Linked DNA regions of Homo sapiens. The protein of the gene in region 3 interacts with the protein of the main gene of each other region in a pairwise test. Each region holds a gene or a part of one and is shown on either strand. Other genes may lie near its edges.

The links. Proteins that work in one complex are often made in the same cells at the same time.
Region 1: the proteins of MOB2 (region 3) and STK38L interact in binary tests that used the Homo sapiens proteins (3 or more experiments, as listed by UniProt).
Region 2: the proteins of MOB2 (region 3) and SFT2D2 interact in binary tests that used the Homo sapiens proteins (3 or more experiments, as listed by UniProt).

What each region holds. Positions count from the first base shown.
Region 1 is NC_000012.12:27,247,269-27,254,292, reverse strand, and holds part of STK38L (serine/threonine-protein kinase 38-like), read right to left. Parts: intron 1-7,024. UniProt on the Homo sapiens protein: Involved in the regulation of structural processes in differentiating and mature neuronal cells.
Region 2 is NC_000001.11:168,235,987-168,243,010, forward strand, and holds part of SFT2D2 (vesicle transport protein SFT2B), read left to right. Parts: intron 1-602; coding exon 603-638; intron 639-725; coding exon 726-784; intron 785-3,144; coding exon 3,145-3,174; intron 3,175-6,514; coding exon 6,515-6,554; 3' UTR 6,555-7,024. UniProt on the Homo sapiens protein: May be involved in fusion of retrograde transport vesicles derived from an endocytic compartment with the Golgi complex.
Region 3 is NC_000011.10:1,483,768-1,490,977, forward strand, and holds the start of MOB2 (MOB kinase activator 2), read right to left. Parts: upstream 3,013-7,210; 5' UTR 2,790-3,012; coding exon 2,680-2,789; intron 1-2,679. UniProt on the Homo sapiens protein: Stimulates the autophosphorylation and kinase activity of STK38 and STK38L.

The sequences.
Region 1 (7,024 bases), on a different chromosome or scaffold from region 3:
CTAGAACTAGAATAAAAGGACTTCATTATTAGGTATTACAGTCTTGGGAAATGTTTAAGAGTTCCATAAAACCCTATGGGAAAGGTAAATAATCATGTTCCTACCACAATCCCCTCCCTCAAGTCAGGTGCTCTTGAAGCTGTGCTTTGATGCAGCATTCTCTTTATACAACAACCTCGGTGGTTCTAGGCTTCATCAAAGAAAAGGATTTTAGTGGATTTACTTTTCTCTTTATCTCTCTGGCTGATGGTATCTTTACTTTTTCTGTTTAATTTCACAAAATGGAAGCAAGAGACAATTTATCACCAGCACTGCACTCCAGGTTGGGAGTGAGAAGCACAGAAGAGGTGCTTCCAAGAGGCTACTAGAGGCAACAGAAACACTTTCTTACAAAAGCTCAGAGTGCTAAAGCTGGATAAACATAAATAGACAGCAAATAAAAGTTCATTGCTCCTGTCCAGCATCACGGCAACAATTCCGGTTCCTGTGGCCCCCTAATATGCTTCGTGTCTTACATCACTATGTGATAATACCCGCCTGAGGCTTCTCGGCCTGAAACACTCCTCCTCACCCTTCAAGTCTAAGCTCAAACACTCACACATCCTTGGAAAGCTTCTCTCACTATCCCAAGTAGGTGCCCCTCTCCCTTAGGTGTGCCTCTCACTGCTCTTTCATGACAGCTGCTATGCCTGATTGCAGCTATTTCTACCCCTGTGAATGTAGCTCTCCAGTCACCTGCCCAGCTTCTGAGGGAGCACCATGTCTTTCCCTTTCCATATCTCCTGGCACACGGTATGTACTTTATGTACAATTCACAGTGAAAGAACTGCCTAGGTTCTTTCACTAGAGAGACCCATCCATGCAAGTCTCTCCTTCCCAATCTCACCTAGTTTAGAACTTCATTATTATCACCTAGATTATTTGTCTCTTCACTGGTCTTCCCATTTCTGGACTCTCTTTCCTTGAATTCACTCCATATACACTACTGCCACTTACAACTCTAAGTAATTAATGTACCAAGTTGAACAGGTGGTGAAGTAGAGAATGAAAAGCTGGAAAACATCAATTCTCTAAGTTCAAAGGGTTCAAATCCAACAGAGCAGAAAGAGAAGTAGATAATTAACAGAACTTACCAGGTGCTGTACAGATACACCCAATTTATGCTAATCCCTCTGCGTGGCATGTCCTTCACTCTGAAATGCTCAATTCATATTTCACTTCATATAGGAAGCTTTCCTAATCTCTACAGCCAGAAGCAATCTCTCTTTCCTCTGCTCCCACAGTACCCTGTTACTCCGTTGTCACTTTCTGTTTGAATTACAGTCATTTGTACCCATACATTATACCTCTTACTGGACTGAACTTTTCTAAATGGAGGGCCAAACATCTATTTGTCTCTATTTTGCCATGGTACCTAACACAGTGCCCTGCAAATAGCTGATAAATAATGAATTATGATGATTAACCTCACTAAAATATTATGAGTCTGTGATTCCTTTAGGATTTGCCAGTATCAAGAATATCAATGGGTCATATACATGCAATTCAGTACTAAAATTTTCCACTCTAGCCACAAAAATAGAAAAAGTCTATTCTGTTTGTCTAGATAAGAGTCGACATATGGAGAACATCCTCAACCAGATCTGAAAATGTTCAAATGAAATGGATCGCTGTTGTGAAAAACACAACAAAGGGCAACTCCCTAGTACTACAATAAACTGAGCAACCAGCCTCTGCTGCCAAATACAGAAAAGTCGTAAGGGGCAAACACGGTGTGGTATTTCCACAATGGGAGCAGGTCAGTGGGTAGACACTTAACTAAGTAAAAATGAACACTGCTAGTAAAAATTAATTTAATAAAACAGACACTAGTACAAGATAGTATGTCAAAAATGGATCATTGAATAAGCTGTCTGAGCTCTCAAACATTATCACTTTCCAGAAGTGAATACTACTTGCAGCTTATCCATTCTTTTAAGGATCATATTCAATTTTCTACAAAAGTGCTTTTGTAGGCCGGGCATGGTGGCTCATGCCTGTAATCCCAGCACTTTGGGAGGCCGAGGCAGGCGGATCACGAGGTCAGGAGATTGAGACCATCCTGGCTAACACGGTGAAACCCCATCTCTACTAAAAATACAAAAAATTAGCCAGGTGTGGTGGCAGGCACCTGTAGTCCCAGCTACTCGGGAGGCTGAGGCAGGAGAATGGCGTGAACCCGGGAGGCAGAGCTTGCAGTGAGCTGAGATCGCGCCACTGCACTCCAGCCTGGGTGACACAGCGAGACTCCGTCTCAAAAAAAAAAGTGCTACTGTAAGATACCTCAGCAAGCCCTTGTTAGGATTCCCAATTCCTTAATTTCACTGTTTATGTCTGTCCTCCCTTCACCCTATTCCTTTATCATAATTGTTTTAGTTAGAATGTAAGCAATTGAGTGCACAATGAGATAGACAATAACTTAAGAATTAAGGACTTTAACATTTCATGATTTAAAATGCAGAACTAAAATTCCAGGTTCTCAATTCTCACAAAACAAAACAAAGCTCAAGGCTTAAAACTTTAGAAAATGCCATGCTATAATGATATTTACCCACTCCTAATTGGCTTAAATGAAGTCAGAACATTTGATTATATCATTTATTTCAGCACTGTAATTGCTAAGGGCAAAAACCTTGTCTCATCAACTAATTTTGTAGAGGCCTTAGTGAACGATTTGCTTGTAGCAGCTTTTACTCTACAAGGAAGACCAGTGTGTTAAATAAAGTGTTTATATTAGAGTCGAAAGACCTAAGTTTAAATTCAGGCTCTGTCTCTTATTTTGAGATCTCAGACAAGTCACTTTAATCTGAGTTCCTCTCTTTACCTGAAAATAGGTGTAATAGCCATAACCCTCACTGCCTAGACCACATGACTGCTATGAGGATTAAGTAAGGAAATGTGTAAAAACGCTTCATAAAACTATAAAGTGTAATACAAATATAAGGGCTCCTGGTATTATTCTTAAAATAAGTGCTAAGAGTAAATCCCTGTCTATAAGAAATCAGAATACAATTGAATTATTTCTGCATACTTTTCCCAAGAGAATTTATGTCTGACATGCAAAACTGTAAATAACTCCTAAAGGGGAAATTACCAAAAAAGGAAGGGAAAAAAGAGAAGAAAGAAAACTTGGGGTGGGACTAGAAGAGGGAGGTAAATTAAAGAGAAAAGGAGAAGTTTTTGTAGTAAAATAATGCAATGTAAGAGAGAGCAAACCTGATCTGAAGAAGCAATTTCTTTTTTTTTTTTTTTTTTTTGAGACAGAGTCTCACTGTCACCCAGGCTGGGCTACAGTGAAGTGGTCTCAGCTCACTGCAAGCTCCACCTCCCGGGTTGACGCCATTCTCCTGCCTCAGCCTCCTGAGCAGCTGGGACTACAGGTGCCCGCCACCACGCCCGGCTATTTTTTTTATTTTTAGTAGAGACGAGGTTTGGCCATGTTAGCCAGGATGGTCTCAATCTCCTGACCTCGTGATCTGCCCACCTCGGCCTCCCAAAGTGCTGGGATTACAGGCGTGAGTCACCGCGCCCGGCCTGAAGGAGCAATTTCTAACTCTACCACTTACTATCTACCTGTGTGTCCCTGGGCAAGTCACTTCACCTCTCTAAGCTCCAATTTCCTCATTTGTAGGTAGAGATAATAACTCACAAGATTGCTATAAGGATTAAATGAGATAATATATATAAAGTACTTAGCACTATGTCTGGTGCATAGTAAGGGATAAGTGGTTACTGGCATTGATAAAATTATCAGACCTGTGCCCTAATGGGTGACATTCAGAAAGAAAAAGGAATCAAGAACATTTAAGAGGGAAAGATGATGTTCAGGGAGCTAAATCTATATATTACCACTGGGAGACAAACTTTGAGAAATATAAATTACACAAAGTATGCTTCATATTAAATGTTCAGATTACTTACTGTGTCTCTTGAATTGGTGAGGAATCAAGAGAAATGCAGTCAAAATCTCCAGATCATAAAAGCAGAATAGCAATAACCGTATTCATAAAAGCAGAATAGCAATAACCGTATTCATAAAAGCAGAATAGCAATGGGAGAACTTGGCCCCCTGAAAAGTAGGCATTAATGTGTGCAGAAGCTTCTCTGTCCCAAACTCAATTTTCTAAACTTTCACAGACAGAATGAAAGCTAGACTCCATAGCAAAGGTACAGCAACCCCGAATGCCTGGGTTAGCTATCATGCCCTCATGTTAGTTTCTGCCATCTTGTTCTTTATTCTGGGTGTATCTGTAGCTGATTTGAGGTGTTAAACATTATTAACTCCACCCTATTCAGGAACTGCAAAAGCAGTAAAAGTGTCCCAGGAATCAGGAAAACGAGGAATAAAATCTCCTGAATCAGCTGGAGAGATAGTAAATAACTCAAAGAGGTAAGAAAACAATGGATGCTATCTGTGCATACGGGATCAGAGATTTATCTATTATAACATGTAGAAATTCTATACCTGTGGAATCAACGAGAATCAGCAAAAGGCAAGGAAAACAGGAAGCCTTCTGTATAAATGGCCAGAGAATCAACAATTTGGGTTACCAACTGATCTGGTGTTAATTAAGGGGAAGGTAAAGAGCTTGTTAAGAATTTAAAAGCTAAGCATAGGCCAGGCGCAGTGGCTCACGCCTGTAATCCCAGCACTTTGGGAGGCCGAGGCGGGCGGATCACCTGAGGTCGGGAGTTCGAGACCAGCCTGACCAACATGGTGAAACCCCATCTCTACTAAAAATACAAAACTTAGCCAGGCATGGTGGTGCGTGCCTGTAATCCCAGATATTTGGGAGGCTGAGGCAAGAGAATCACTTGAACCCAGGAGGCGGGGGTTGCAGTGAACCAAAATCATGCATTGCGCTCCAGCCTTGGCAACAAGAGTGAAACTCTGTCTCAAAAATAAATAAATAAATAAATAAAAGCTAAGCATAGTAGAAGTGTTATCACATACCACAGACAATTGCCAAGGCTCCAGGCCTGTTTGGAATTTATACAATATGACTGTGAATGATCAGGTCACCACATGACCTGTAACTGTTAAGGTCTTCCCTAAGATCTGTGCAGAGCTCATCTAAGAGGCAGGCTACCTGCCTCAGCAGACGTTCAATGCAGATAAGCTGTTCCTGGTGGGAAAAGATGCCCCCAAAACTTGAATCAGCAAGGAGGTAACAGTATGACTGGTTTTCTTTTGATAGACCTACTCACACACCTTTTTACTAAGACAATCTTCCCAAACCACCTGTACTTAGAAGAACTTGGAAACTTTTTATAACAAAGCGAAGTCCACATCTAAGTATCTCCATGAAATGATGGGCTAAAGATCTGCCAATCAGGGCATGGTAAATGGAAATGATATACCATCACTATTAATTTAAGGTATGTTTCAAAAAAAAACTTTTTAAAATTTGTTTTGCCATCTCTGTCTTATTTCAATAATATAAACACACGTGCTTTAAATCCTGGCTTTAGTTCTGCTACTCTTCCCATTAGGTTTTAAGCTCATCAACCATCAACTGTCCTAGTATAGGTGTCTTCTAGAACCTACCCCATTGAGTCAAGTGGAGAATACTTATATTCGTTCACAGAGACTATGACTCTGGAGCTGTACTTAAACTATGAGTACGGTCAACTGCAGGCACTGACAAAGAAGCTGAAGAGTCTGGATCCTGCTGGACAGTTAGGAAAAGGCAGGCAATACCTCTCCCACCGCTCACCTGCTGTATTCCCTGCCTAGGTATACTTTTTTTCTAACCTTTAAATCCAATTGAATTTGTGATTCCAATTCTTAAACAATAACAAATGTGGACTATTCCTGAAACTTCATAAATAAAATCAGGTGGACATTTACAGTACTGAGTAGGCCTATACAAGACACTGTGCACTTCTATAGCACCCTTTATTTCACAAACCCAAAGAACTGTCAAAGTTGCCCCAACATAAAGTATCAGTGATGGAACTTCTCTCATTTTTACATGTACAACACTCTATTCACCCTGTTTCTGCCATTATAAGCATAGCTATTCATGAAAATAAACTAAAAGGGCTGAGACCAACATTCAATCATTAACTAAATTTCAACTTCATAATTCAACCCAAAAACTATCCAGTGCCAAGTGGTTTAAAAAATTATAGAACAGGGCTGGGCACATTGGCTCACACCTGTAATCCCAACATTTGGGAGGCCAAGGCAGGAGGATCACTTGAGCCAAGGAGTTCGAGACCAGGCTGGGCAACATAGTGAAACCCTGTCTCTACAAAAAATTTAAAAATCAGTCGGGCGTGCTTGTGCACACCTGTAGTCCGAGCTACTCAGGAGGCTGAGGTGGGAGGATCGCTTGAGCCTGAGAGGCAGAGGTTGCAATGAGCCATGATTGCACTACTGCACTCCAGCCTAAAAGACAGACTTAAACTCTGTCAAAAAAAAAAAAAAAAAAAATTACAGAACAAAGCCAAACACAGTGGCTCAGGCCTATAGTTCCTGCAACTTAGGAGGCAAGAAGATCATCTGAGCCCAGAAGTTCGAGTCCAGGCTGGGCAAGACAGTGAGGTTCTTTCTTTAAAAAAAATAAATTACAGGACAAAATATACAAAGACGCAAACATTCCATTAAGCAAAAGAGTTAATATGGAATAACTTCTCACTTCTAAGTTCTTATGAGTACTTATAGGTAATAAGTCAAAATTATTAAAAAGTCCCACTCAATAGTTATATTTAATCTGCACCAAGAATAACTTCCAAAAATGGATTAAAATAACATGTCAAAAATAACTCATTTACTTGGGTGTTATTTTGGAACTCTTTCTAGAAAACTGACCCCAAAATTTAGATGTCAGAAGAATGTATTTCCCAAGTCAAGTTTTTGAAACTACAGATCTGAGGAAGACCATCATGAACAGGAGAGAAAATATGGATTGCAGTTAAGCATGCCATATGGGTACAAGCCAGAATGCCTGGGTCAGAATCCTGGTCCTACCACTCAATA
Region 2 (7,024 bases), on a different chromosome or scaffold from region 3:
CATATTTGAGTAGTTATTGTTATAGAAGGATGGCGAAGAAAGGCATGGCTGACTGCTCTAGCACCAGTTGTCCTTGGCCAGCCTCAGATGCCCACGGCCTGGACAAGTCTCTTGCAGAAAGAGCTTTCTAAGAATGGCCTTAGGGAAAGTGTTAGGTGATAGGTACACAAGTAACTGGCATGCTGACTGTGAGATTGATATCTCAGGTTAACCTTTGTCCTCACATGTGCTTTCTGCTGCAGAGACTAGCATTTGGTAGGAGTTAAAATAGAAAGATTTGTGTTAAGCTTACTTTAGTGCATTTGAATGAAAAGATGGATGGACGGATGAATGGGTGGGCCTGAAATGTGATTTGTTTGCTGGGCAGAGGTTCTGGGAAAACTTGAAAGTAAAAGAACATCTTATCTATGTGAATCTTTATTGGCTAGTTTGATTTCATGGAGATTTTTAACTATTCTGCCAAATATGGGTGCTCAGGTGGGTTAACTGCTTTGAGATGAAGGATGCATAAGTTTTGTGCATTTGTGAAGAATAACAAGTTTTGAGTTTTTTTTTTCCTGCCATGTTATTGTCATTAATTAATGTTTCCTTTCTTCCTTTAGTTGTGTTTTGCACTTACCCTGTGTTCTGCCTTTTGGGTAAATGTATATTTTAATTTTTCTTAACCATTTTGGCTTTTGCCCCTTGTCTCACACTCTCCTATAACCATATTATTATTTTTCCAGTGGCATAACAAGGGACTTGCACTTATCTTCTGCATTTTGCAGTCTTTGGCATTGACGTGGTAAGTAACCTTTTAAACAATCCCCTCCCACATAGCCCACTGAATAATGTAGCCAAAGGAGATAAAACTCACATATTGTGGGTGGGAGAATTAAGAAAACACAGAAGCTGTTTAATTTAAGGATTCGTAATGATGAAAGTGAAGTCAGGCTCCAGAGCAAATGCCTATCAACCCAGCCCACTGCCAATAGATGGCATTAGTGGTCTTGAGTGGTCACAGGAGGCTCCTTGTTTGCCTGCTGTGGCATTTTTGCTGAACTAATGGTTGATTTTTGAGATGTTACAAATATTATTAAGCCACTCATGTCCGGTAAGTGCAAGGACAACAAAAGTATTATAAGGGATGTTAAAAAGGCTTGTGAGTCCAATAGAGGTTAACAAAAAAGGAAAGTGGTAAGAAAAATAATGAATGTTACATTTGTGATAGAATGAATCATTTAACAGAAGGACAAAGAGTGAACTGTCAGCAGGAGATGAGGAACAGTCACTGACGAAATGGAAAAACGTGTGTCTGTGGGCTGTAGGATCAGCGTATGTGCTCAGAGGCTTGTTGGCTTTTGGTAATTCAGCTGAAGAGTAGGAAATTGTAACTCCAGAGCCAAGTATAGTAAAAGGGCCGCTGGAGACATTTTGGGAAACCATGAGTGGGGCTGTAGGTTCATGGTCCTTTCAAGCCTATACGACCTCAGAGTGAGAGGGGTGGTGGCATAGTTGGAATCTGTAGGTTCCAAGACATTTCTGTAGTTCTTTCAAAGTTTATCAAGGGATGGTATCTGCCAGAACAGTTTCAGTATAGATGTGACTCACCTATTTTTGAAAAAAATGTTTGCTACAGTGTAAAGAAAGGAGGATTGTGGACATTTTAAAGTTCTGAAGAATTGGTTAACTCCTATTTGGTAGAAATGAATCTTGAGACTGTAAGCTTAACTCCCATCCCTCCCTTTAGCAATTTTGGACTTTTGAATAAATATAGTTACAAATTGCCTTTTGGAATTTACTGTGTTGACAAGTAATTGAGCTTCTGTACATGTTAAGTATAAGATATGGAGAAGGATGCTGGTGTTTGTGTTTATGTGTGTGTGTGTGTGTATGTTTTTTTTTTTTTTAAATGACATGCACATTTGAGTGGTAGACTGTTTATATTTTGATTTTTCTTCCAGGGCAGAAATTGGTACCTATATACACACACCTTGCTTTGCTTATAGACTGATTTTGAATCCAGTTTCAGAGGTTCAGCATTCATATGGGTCCAGCTGAATGGTGATATTCCCTTCAACACTCATGTGTTCTGACTGTGTTTGCTTTTCTAAGGGCTAACTTACAGTCTGCCTGACACACAGTGCCTGGTTCTTTAGCATTATGGAGCCTGTTCCTTGTATATGGTTTCCTTCTAAGTGACAGGGCTGAGCTAACTGGAATTTACCAAGATACCTTTGGACGTACTACATTTTCACTCATAGAGTAGTTGGTAGCATTTTTTTCTTCTTCTTTTTTATTCTCTTTTCTCTTCTTTTAAAATTAATAGGAGCAGAGCAGAAAATTTATCCCAATTAGGTAGAAGTTAAATTCTGTTTAGAATTTATAAAATGTTAGGAGTTCAACTGTGCCAGGTATGGGTGGCTCACACTGTAATGCCAAGACTTTGGGAGGCTGAGGTGGGAGGATTGCTTGAAGCCAGGAGTTTGAGACTAGCCTGGACAGTGTAGCAAGACCGGGTCTCTGCAAAAAAACAAACAAACAAACAAAAAAAAACATTAAAAAATTAGCCGGGCATGGTGGCACATACTTGTAGTCCCAGCAATTCTGGAGGCTGAGGCAGGGGGATTGCTTGAGCTTCCTAGACTTGAGCCTAGAAATTCAAGGCTGCAGTGAGCTATGATTGAGCCACTATATTCCAGCAGCCTAGGTGACGAGCACGACCCTGTCTCAAAAAAAAAAATAAATAAATAAATAAAGGAGGGGGGTGCGGTTCAACTGTTCTGGGTTTTATTTGATATTTTTTCAGAATAGAGTTTCTGTGCCATCTGGGTATTTGAAATCTGACTGTTTAAGGTGATTGTTGCTAGTTCAAGGTTATAGCAGTACTGCATTGAGGCCGAGGTCATACGGGTTATCTCCACATGAACCTTTTGCCCTTCTTCTGTGGCTGCCTATCTGTACATGGCCATAGTGTGTGTGTTTGGGTACACGTGCATGCACATGCGTGGGCCTTTGTGTGCACATGCTCATCCCCCAGGCTGAGTATGGGAGAGGGTCTGGATAGATCACTGCAGGTATTCTTACAGCTCAGAAGCCCATTCTGCTGGATAATCTGCTACTCCCTTCATCTCATTTGACCCTTTGTTTTGTTTTTCATTATAGGTACAGCCTTTCCTTCATACCATTTGCAAGGTAAGACTGTGTATTTGGAAATAATGATTTCTGTCATTTTAATTCAGAGTCTGCTTTCAGAGAGTATAGCCTATTTTATTTATCTTTACTGAAGTCTTTTGAGTCAAGTAGACAAATACTATACATCTCATTTATAGATAAGTAAGTTAAAGGTCACCCCACCACCCACTCTAATTATACAACTAATGATGGATATTTACCCAGGTACACTGATTTCCAATGCTGTGAACATTCTACTCTTATATATGGTGCATATATGCACATTATTACTCTTTTAACCCGTAGCTTTGAGTAGGGTTTTTTTTTTTTTTTTTTTTATAAAGGTGAATGTCATTTCATATCACTGAGTAAGATATGGAGGGATCTCAATTCGTGCTTCTTGCAGTATCCCACTGCTGGGAAGGTTTCACAAGAGTTTATAAAGGGAGAGTAAGCAGTACCAGGGCTTCCTAATTAGCAGTGTGACCTCGAGCAGCTCTCTTGACCCCTCTGGCCTCAAAGCATCGATAAGTAGACTGAGTTGGTCTAGATCATCTCCAGAGGCCTCTTTTAGCTCTGAAATTCTAATACTCCATACCTCTTTAAGCACTTTCAGTGACGGACCTCTCAAAATTAGCCGCATGATCTTTGCCTCTGACTTTGTTCTAATGCAACTATTTAACTTCTGTTCTTTTTTTTTTTTTTTTATCATTACCTGTTAATTAAAAACAAGCTTTTTAAAAAAACTGTACTGGGCCAGGTGCAGTGGCTCACGCCTGTAATCCCAGCACTTTGGGAGGCCGAGGCGGGTGGATCCTGCTGTCAGGAGATCGAGACCATCCTGGCTAACACAGTGAAACCCCGTCTCTACTGAAAATACAAAATATTAGCTGGGCGTGGTGGCAGGCGCCTGTAGTCGAAGCTACTTGGGAGGCTGAGGCAGGAGAATGGCGTGAACCCAGGAGGCGGAGCTTGCAGTGAGTCGAGATGGCGCCACTGCACTCCAGCCTGGGCGACAGAGCGAGACTCTGTCTCAAAAAAAAAAAAAAAAAAAGTACTGAGGAAATGAAAAATTATGCATGACTTGGGAAGGAGGAAGAGCAATCTTATGTCTTAACAAATTCCAAGACTGTTGCTGACAGTGATTTGAAAGTATTGAGGAGTGATTGATTGGATGCGAAGTTAAGCCTTTCAAGTGAAAGGCAGCTGAGTGGCTTTGTTGATAGATTCTAGGAGGGTAACAGTTATGAAATACTCCATGCAGACCTGGCTGGTTTTGGGGCCTGGTGGCTTGTCTGAGAAGAATATGGGCAGGGATGTCCTGGGAAGCTAGATTTTTATGTGAAGTAAACCGGAGTTCATCATTACTGAGGATCCAATGAGATATTGATCAACCTGCCAACATATGAATATTTTTTGGTCCCTGAACCAGCTGCATAGTTTTCAGGGCCCAGTGCAAAATAAAAATGTGAGCTTCTTGTTCAAAAATCATAGGCCGGGCACGGTAGCTCAGCCTATAATCCCAGCACATTGGGAGGCTGAGGTGTGCGGATCACGAGGTCAGGAGTTCAAGACCAGCTTGACCAACGTGGTGAACTCCTGTCTTTACTAAAAATACCAAAATTAACCGAGCGTGGTGGCGTGCACCTGTAATCCCAGCTACTCAGGAGGCTGAGGCAGTAGAATCGCTTGAACCTGGGAGGCGGAGGTTGCACTGAGCCGAGATCACGCCATTGCCCTCCAGCCTGGGCAACAGAGGGAGACTCTGTCTCAAAAAAAAAGATTAAGAATTTCAAGATGGCAACATCAAATCAAGGCATTAAACCCAATGTGGACCCTTCTGAGTATGGGGCCAATGCAGTTGCACAGGTCTCATTCGTGAAACTTGCTTGGAGTCATTTGTCAGAGCTTCAGTCTTGATCTGGATTGGCATGTATAAAATTTATGTACAAGTGATTGATAGAATGAGGGAATTTTATTTGAGATAGTGAGTTTCATGTGCTGAGGAGACGAATTACTCCTCTAGTAGGGAGGGAATCACAGAGCTAGATCCCACCCTTCTATTCTTTTTTTTTTTTTTTTTTTTGAGATGGAGTCTCACTCTATGGCCCAGGCTGGAGTGCAGTGGCCCGATGTCAGCTCACCTCAGTCTCCAACCTCCTGGCTTCAAGCTGTTCTCCTGCCTCAGCCTCCATGTGCACGCCACCATGCCAGGCTCATTTTTTGTATTTTTAGTAGAGATGGGGTTTCACCGTGTTGGCCAGGCTGGTCTCGAACTCCTGACCTCAAGTGATTGGCCCACCTCGGCCTCCCAAAGTGCTGGGTTTACAGGTCCGAACCACCATGCCTGGCCCCACCCTTCTATTTGTAAGTTCCCCTGGAATAGCTTTTCCCACAGTGTTCCACAGAAATAGTGTTTCTGTGGAAGAAAAGAGTTCTATGATCAAGTAAGTTTGAGAAACAGGTTAAGCAAAATTAGGTAGGTTCCTCTTTGCCTGGCTTGCTAGATCCTTCCATATGCTATGTGTATTGTGAGCTGCCATGAGGGGGACTTATGTGGCCATAAAACCCTTCTTGTGCAGAGACTCTTCTGAGACTACAGTGCAGAGTATATCTCAAGAAATGCTGCCCTGGAACCATCTTGATATTAAAATGCAGTGCCTACTCATGGAAATGCATCCATTCACCTCTCCCTCCCTTATGTGACTCCCAATGTCCTTAGTGCAGCACAGTTGAGAACGTGGAACAGAGCTGGGGTATGAGAAGCCTAGTGCCACATTGCACAGTGTGGTGTGGTGGTGGAAATGGAAGTGCTTGCTTGGGTAGAATAGTAATTTCTTGAAGACCAACTCTTCCTTGCACCCTCTACACTGAATTCCAAGCAGTAAATACCTGTGATAAGGCCATTATAGCATATTAATAAGTGCTCAGGACCCATAGTGAGCTCCCTTCTGCTGCCTGCTTAGAATGAAGAAAGGTCCCAGTTAATATTTGATTTAATGCTGTCAGTGCATTCTGTGATTTTGACCGATATTAAAGTGCAGCAATCCTGACTGATTTCTTAGTTTCTGACAGTCTATGTTATCTTTTTCTCTGATTATGATGGCTAATCCCATAATCAGACTGTCGGGTAAGTGGGGACATCCCCTCTTACAGATGAGGAATTTGAAACTCAAACAGGACAAGGAACTTTCCCAGGATAGTACTACTAATAAATGTTGAAGCTGCAGTTTGATGCTGTGAAGGTCTGATCTTTCAGTCTAGGTGCTTTCTACTCTGCAGCTTCCACTCTGGGTGCCCTCTAAAGGAGTGCCTTTGGGGTGATGACGTTCCACTCATCTTTGTGTCTTTTCTTTCCTAGGGATGCTGTGAAGAAGTGTTTTGCCGTGTGTCTTGCATAATTCATGGCCAGTTTTATGAAGCTTTGGAAGGCACTATGGACAGAAGCTGGTGGACAGTTTTGTAACTATCTTCGAAACCTCTGTCTTACAGACATGTGCCTTTTATCTTGCAGCAATGTGTTGCTTGTGATTCGAACATTTGAGGGTTACTTTTGGAAGCAACAATACATTCTCGAACCTGAATGTCAGTAGCACAGGATGAGAAGTGGGTTCTGTATCTTGTGGAGTGGAATCTTCCTCATGTACCTGTTTCCTCTCTGGATGTTGTCCCACTGAATTCCCATGAATACAAACCTATTCAGCAACAGCACATAAGCCTTGGGTGCAAGTGATTCCCAGGTGGCAAAAGGCAGCCCCATCAGAGATCACGGGAGCAACAGTAAGGGACAGAGTTTTGGGGTCCACTTGTCCCTCAGCATGGAAGCCATCACCGTGGTCCTGCATAGAGTGAGTCTGCTTCTACTCTGGCA
Region 3 (7,210 bases):
CTCCTTGGCACCCAGCACGTAACTGATCCCTACTGGGAAGTGAGGCAATCCCTGCTAGACACAAATTTGGTGGGCAAGGGAAGGGGCACAGGGAGGCATCAGAGCTGCTGGGCTCCCGTGGAAAACTTAGACAACCACACAGTCAACACACAGGGGGTCTCACCCTGCCCACAGCAGGTGCACACTGCTTCACAGGCAGGGGGAGCTGGGGAGTGGGCTGGGAGCCGCCCACTCCTCATCCGCCCTGAGGGACGAGGACAGCACAACCGAGTGCCCTGCACCTTTGCCACGAGTGTCAACTTCATTATCACAGGGATGGAATCCTGGCCAGGCCCCACGGCCCACAGGAATGGGGTGCTCCAGGCTCAGAGACCCCCACTCGCCCAGAGCACGCTTGCTATGGAAGTCGAGCCTGTAGACCCTGAGGTGAGTGGGCAGCAGCAGGAGGTGGCCCTCATCTGGCACTTCCCACCACAGGTCAACGCCAAGGGGTGGGGCAGGCACGAGGGGCCCAGAAATACAAGTCCCCAAGCCCAGGCCTGGAAAATACGGTGACCAGGCAGCGTGTGGGGTGCAGGAGAAAGGCCCGCAGGTGACGCCTCTGAGGAGGGCATGGTCCTTGGACCCCACTCAGCCATCTGCACCGGGCCCCTCATGCTCCTTGGTTCGGGTGAATGTCAGTGCTGGTTGGTCCACCCAGAGCCTGAAAGTCAAGGCTCCCAGTGACCCCTTCCCCCAAGACCCGGCCAGGCAGAGCCCCCAGTAGCCACCCGGTACAGAGCCTGGGTCTCAGCACACCTTGCTGCCCAGGGTGCACGCCACGGGCACCTCCTGTCACCCCAACATGCAGGGAGGGCACCACATGCTGGGGTGCTTGGCGCCACCCCCACCCCTACATTTCTGATGTGGCCTTCTGGGTGTTGAGGGGGGGCCTGAAAACTGCATTTCTAACACCGTGTTCTAACCCGAGTTCTCCCTGGGTGCTGATCCCACTTCTGTCACACGGCCTCAGGCTGAGGGGTGGGAAGGCCTCCGGAGCCCCTGTCCATCTCTCAGCACAGCCTGCACTGCCCACAGGCTTCAGCCAGCTGGAAGCTGTGGAGTGTGGCTTCTTTTCTTCTGAGTTTAATTGTCTGCCCCCCCAAACAGGTCAGCAGCCCCAGACAAAGCGAGCTTTTACCAGCCTACTGTGCCCTCTGCAGAGGCCCATTGAGAAGGAAAAAGCCAAGATGGCACAAGGAACGCCCGCAGACATCCCAGACCAAACGTCCAAACAGGCAGGTGCTGCTGCTGTCCTAGAACCTCAGCCCCACGTGGCCACCATGCTCCACTGCGCCTCGGCCCCTCCATGCATCCAGCTCCCAGCCAAGGTGGCTTCCTCATCGCTTCCTTTGAAACCTTCCTGAGCCCCAGGGAAGGGACTCCGCCCGTCTTCCTTAGGGCCTGGCTGGGCTCCAGGCCTGCCTCTGTGTCTCCTGTGGAGCTGCCTTCGGCATTTGGCCTCAGACACACAAGCACACACTGGCACAGGCACACACACACACACGCCAGTCCCCTCACACCACTGATGTCAGGCACCATTCCTGATTTGAACTCACGAGTACTGCCAACTTGCCCACACATTTCCAAAACCTCACAGTTTCACCTTAAGATAGGACATCCTAGGCAGGGTCACCGGCCGGCACTCTTGTGTCTACTTGTGGAGCCCTCCCTGTTGAATGCACAGGTGATCGGGAGATAGGGAAGGAGCCTATGAAGAGAAAGATGGAGCCGGGTGCCCAGGGACAGGCAGAGGCACGGAGATGCACACGGGTGCCGCAGCCCCCGGCCCTTGGAGGGCACGTCCAGCAGGCCACGCTCGCCTCACACCCCCACCAGGCAACCCCACCCGGGAGGACACACTCACTGCTGCAGCTGGCTGTGCCTGCCCCACTCCCCCGGCCCCTCATGCCCACACACGGGTGCACACTCCCACACACACGGGTGCACGCTCCCACACACTTGGGCGCACACTCCCACACACGCCCCTGCACACACCGAGCTGAGTGGTGTGGGCAGGGAGGCACCCCCGCAGCAGGTCAGAGAAAGTACAGGTGAGAAAAATGTCAAAAATGGATTTTCCGGCAACATCCCTATGGCAGCCAGCACAAAAATAGGCACCCGGGAACCCCATGCCACTTCTCTGGACAAGGCCACACAAGGACAGACTCCGGGTCACCTCTGCCTGGGTGGCTGAAGCCCCTGCCCAGGGCACAAACAGCCGCACGCTGGGACAAAGACAGGCACACCTGCTGGCGGCTGAGGAACCACACCCTGTGGGTTGCGGGAGGACAAGGCAGGCTCCTGTGCCGGCAAGGTGGGGTCAACCCCGAAGGTCGAGGACACCAAGACCCGCTCCTCTCCCACAGAGCAACAGGAAGTGCAGGCGGCTAAGGAAAGCCCCACTGGGCAGGGCTCCAGAGCAAACCCGCCAGGCTGGCCCGGGACTGCACAGCCGCCTCTGCCCTGGACAGCTTGCGTGTGGCCCAGCACAGCTCGCTGCACAGCCGCCGGCCACACTGGGAGGGCAGCCACGGACACAGTCCGCCGCCTCCCCACCCTGACCTCCTTCCTGGGGGCAAGAACAGGGCAGACAGATGTGCTACACACCCCTCCCCCAGCCAGGCTGGCAGGTGTTACCTGAGCACTTTGCTGACAGCCTGAAGCACCATTTTGCAGCAGAGTCCACTTTGCAGGGACTGGCCGGGCCGGGCTTGGTCTTCAGGGAGACTGCAGTGGTCTCCCAGCATGAGTGGGCGACGGGAAGGTGGGGAGGAGAAGCGGGGCGGGGTGCCGGCTGGCCAGCACTCGCAAATGCCTGCTGCCGGGCCCTCCAGCCTCACTCCCTGGCCAATGGGACGCCTGGCAGAGACAAACAGCTGCCCCCTTTCCAGAGGCAAGGGCTGGCCAAGGCTGGTGAAACGAGGGAGCGTCTGAATTGGCCTTTTCCAAGTGGCATGGCTGCCAGAAGAGGCGGTGGGGGTGGGACCAGAAGGGAGGGGACAGGGCCGTCCTTGGCCTGCAAGAAGGGTCCATCAGAAAGGTCCTGGGCTCCACCTCAGGCTGCCAGAAGAGGCGGTGGGGGTGGGACCAGAAGGGAGGGGACAGGGCCGTCCTTGGCCTGCAAGAAGGATCCATCAGAAAGGTCCTGGGCTCCACCTCAGGCTGCCAGAAGAGGCGGTGGGGGTGGGACCAGAAGGGAGGGGACAGGGCCGTCCTTGGCCTGCAAGAAGGATCCATCAGAAAGGTCCTGGGCTCCACCTCAAGGTCCTCTGCTGCCAAGCCCCCAGGAAAGGCCTTCTGAACACAGGCAGCAACTCTGCTGACGAGCTCCAGGTCGATGGCACTCCCCTCTCCCTTGTCCGGCCCAGCCTAGCCCAGTCAGTGCTCGGGCCAGGGACGGACAGACGGACAGACAGATGGGCCGCCCTGCCCTGCAGTGTGTACGCAGCTGGAGGCACTCAAAGTGGCTTTCCTGCTGGATGGCCCTGGAGAGAGAAGGGGCCGACCAGCTTCTGCGGTGCCTGGACGGTGCTGGGCTGAGGCTGCTGCCAGCCAGGACCACAGGGCACCCAGCCCAACAGAAATGCCCACAGCAGCTCCCCATGGGGGCGCACAGAGCGGCACGGCCCCGGCCTTCCTTCTGGCTGGTCTGCACACAGGAGACCACCACATCCTGAAAATGCAAACACCTGAGAGGGCAATGCTCTCTCCTCATCCTGAGTCAGCGTGGACCCCACTGGCAGTGACAGCCCCCTGACAACACGGGGTCATCAGGAGCATCCCCCACCCGCATGGGAGCCATACTTCCTGTGCTTCCTGCCAATCAAGAGACCCCAGCATCTCCAGCCACTGCCCCTCAGAAGCTGTCCCAGCACCTCTGTCGGTGTGAAGCCCTGTAGGAGTCAGGACACAGCCTGAGGTACCAGCTGCTGCGGGGAGCACAGAGCCATCAGGAAAGCAGCCAGGGTAGGCTCACCCCCATCAATACCAGCCCCCATGGGAGTTGTGGTGTCTGGACTGCACGCACACACACAGCCTGGGCGCACGGGGAGACAGCACACCAACCCAGCACAGACACACTCTCCAGGAGCCACAGCAGAGGATGGCCCCAGGCCGGCCCCCGCCTCCCTAAGCAGCAGCAGCAGCAGGCCCAACAGGCTGCAGTTTCATTTTCCCCACTAGGCCAGTCCCTAAGCCATGCTCTGAGCAGTGCGTAACTGGTCTCTACAGAACAAACAGCCCGGTGAGGCTCAGGACGTCCATGCGCCCACAGGCCTTCCTCTGCCTTGGCAAGGCCATCCCACAGCCCTGTGGTGCCACACGCACCTAGGCACCGTGCTCACGGCTGCCGGTCTGCCCTCGGGGGCTCCACCAACAGCAGGGACACAGGTGCTGGCAGGTCACCCAAGTGGCAAAGGGAGCCACAGGAAGAGCGGGCTCCAGGCCTGGGGAGGCCCCCGTGAGTAGCAGGGCTGGGACCAGGAGGTGCATGACGCAGACCTGCCCACTCTCGGGAGGCATGGCCTGGACAGAGAAGGCCGTGCAGAGGCCCATGACAGGGAGAATGAGCTGCTGGGGGTTGGAGGGCAGAGCATAAAGGAAGCTGGGGATGGTGGAGGCTTCGGGCACAAGAAGCCAGGCAACCAGGCAAGGCAATGGTGAGGGTGGCACGGGGGCGGGGGAACAGTCAGGACAAGGTGCCGGGTAGGGTGGGGGGAGCACACCAAGCGTGCCTAGTCTGGTCCAGGCAAGGCAGTGGTGAGGGTGGCACGGGGGCGGGGGAACAGTCAAGACAAGGTGCCCGGTAGGGTGGGGGAGCACACCAAGTGTGCCCAGTGGGTCTGGTCAGCACACGGCAGCTCTGTGGCTTATGCCACTGTCCCGAGAGGGCTGGGCTGGCGCCAGAGGAACGTCCACATTCATCTGTGTTTGTTCACTGGGGGACACGTGCAGGGAGCAGGTATTCCTATTGATCAAAACTTAGGTAGTGGGGCAGGAGTGGGGTAGGGTGAGGGGCAGCTGGAACCCACAGACACTGAGCGACAGACACTGCACTGGGAAGAGGAGCAGACCTGGAGCAGGCTCTGCAGACTCCACGAGGAGCTGCCACAGAGGCCCGCAGGCCAGTGACGGGTGCCAGTGTGGCCTGGCCCCGCCACCCCAGAAAAGGAAGAGCAAAAGCACCTTCTGGGCACAGCCAGGGCCAGGAGCTGGCCAGGAACAGAGAGCACAGGAGCGGGGCAGAGGCACCACGCAGGGGGGAACGGTCGCAACCAAGGCGGGACGGGGCAGGGGGCACGGGCCATGTGTCTGTGTCAGAGGTTATTTTACCTTTAATAAGCTTTTAGTTTTAGAAAAGTGTTAGATTTACAAAGAACTGCAAACACAGAATCCCCATGGCCCCCCACTCACTCTTCCTATTGCTAACCCTTACACTAGGATGGTCTGTTTGTTAACAATGAACAAATCCACATTGATGCAGCAAGGTCCAAACTTGACTCAGACGTCTGGATCCATCCATTGCTCTCCTCACGACGAGGCTGGGCTGTGGGTGTGGGTAGGAAGAGCACAGAGGGAAATGTCCCCCTCGTCGCCCCGTGCCCACGGCCCGTCCTGTCAGCACGGCTCATCGCGGGAGGTGCTCCCGATCTCCTGGCTGAGGCTGTGACTGCCAGGCCTCCCCACGCAAAGACGCTCTCGTCTTCCCCGCCCCGCACCGCGCTCTCGAACGAAGCTGCTGCACGCAGACCACACTGAAGGGGTGGGGACCACCCCTTACCACCCTGACGGAGGAGTAGCTACGGGAATTACTGGAAGTTCGGCACCAGAGAGCGGCCTCTTCTTGGTCACTCATTTATATATTCAGCCATTTGTTTATATTGGGATGAAGTCCTGGCTATTGAGGCTGCACTCCGAGCTAGAACACAACACTACTTTGTTTTGTGAATCACACTGTCCGTCCTTGGCCCTGGGGAGCTCCTGCCATCAGCTGCTGGGTCCCCTGATGCACCCCCATCAACAGACTTTTCATTTTGGGGCATGTCCTGATTTCCTGGCACTGCAGGGTGCTCCAGGCTCCCCCTGCATTCCCAGCCCCAGCCCGGGAATCAGCCCCTTCTCCAAGGAGCCCTGGTTCTTTTCATTAGAAAATATTAAAAACTGGCCAGGCAGCCGGGCGTGGTGGCTCACGCCTGTAATCCCAGCACTTTGGGAGGCCAAGACGGGCCTCCCACAAGGTCAGGATCACAAGGTCAGGAGATCGAGACCATCCGAGCTAACACAGTGAAACTCTGTCTCTACTAAAAATACAAAAAAATCAGCCGGGTGTGGTGGCAGGCGCCTGTAGTCCCAGCTACTCGGGAGGCGGAAGCAGGAGAATGGCGTGAACCCGAGAGGCAGAGCTTGCAGTGAGCTGAGATCGCACCACTGCACTCCAGCCTGGGCGACAGAGCAAGACTCCGTCTCAAAAAAAAAAAAAAAAAAAAAAATGGCCAGGCATGGTGGCTCATGCCTGTAATCCCAGTATTTTGGGAGGCCAAGAAGGGACCATCACTTGAGCCCAAGAGTTTGAGACCAGCCTGGGCAATAAAGGGAGACCCCATCTCTACAAAAAATGTAAAAATTAGCCAGGCATAGTGGTGTGTGTCTGTGTTCCCAGCTACATGGGAGGCTGAGGCAGGAGGATCACTTGAGCCCAAGAGATTGAGGCTGCTGTGACCCATAATCACACCACTGCACTCCAGCCTGGGTGACGGAGCGAGACCCTGCCCCAAAACAGTAATGAATGAATTCAAAACTGAGACCTGGTCAGGCACGTTGATTCACATCTGGAATCTCAAGAGCACTTTGAGAGGCCCAGGTAAGTGAATCGCTTGAGGCCAGGAGTTTCAGATCAGCCTGGGCAACACAGCAAGACCCCCATTTCTAAAACAATTTTTTTTTTTTAATTATCTGGGCATAGTGGCATGTGCCTGTGGTTTCAACAACTGAGGAGCTGAAGTGAGAGGATCACTTGAGCCCAGGAGGTTGGTGGCTGCAGTGAACCATGACTACACCACCTCACTCCAGCCTGGGTCTACACAAACGAGAAACGAAAACACTAAGATCAGAGCACTGGGTGGGCTCGTTGCTAGTGGGTGTCACTGCTTCCAGGCCCTCTCAGCTGGAA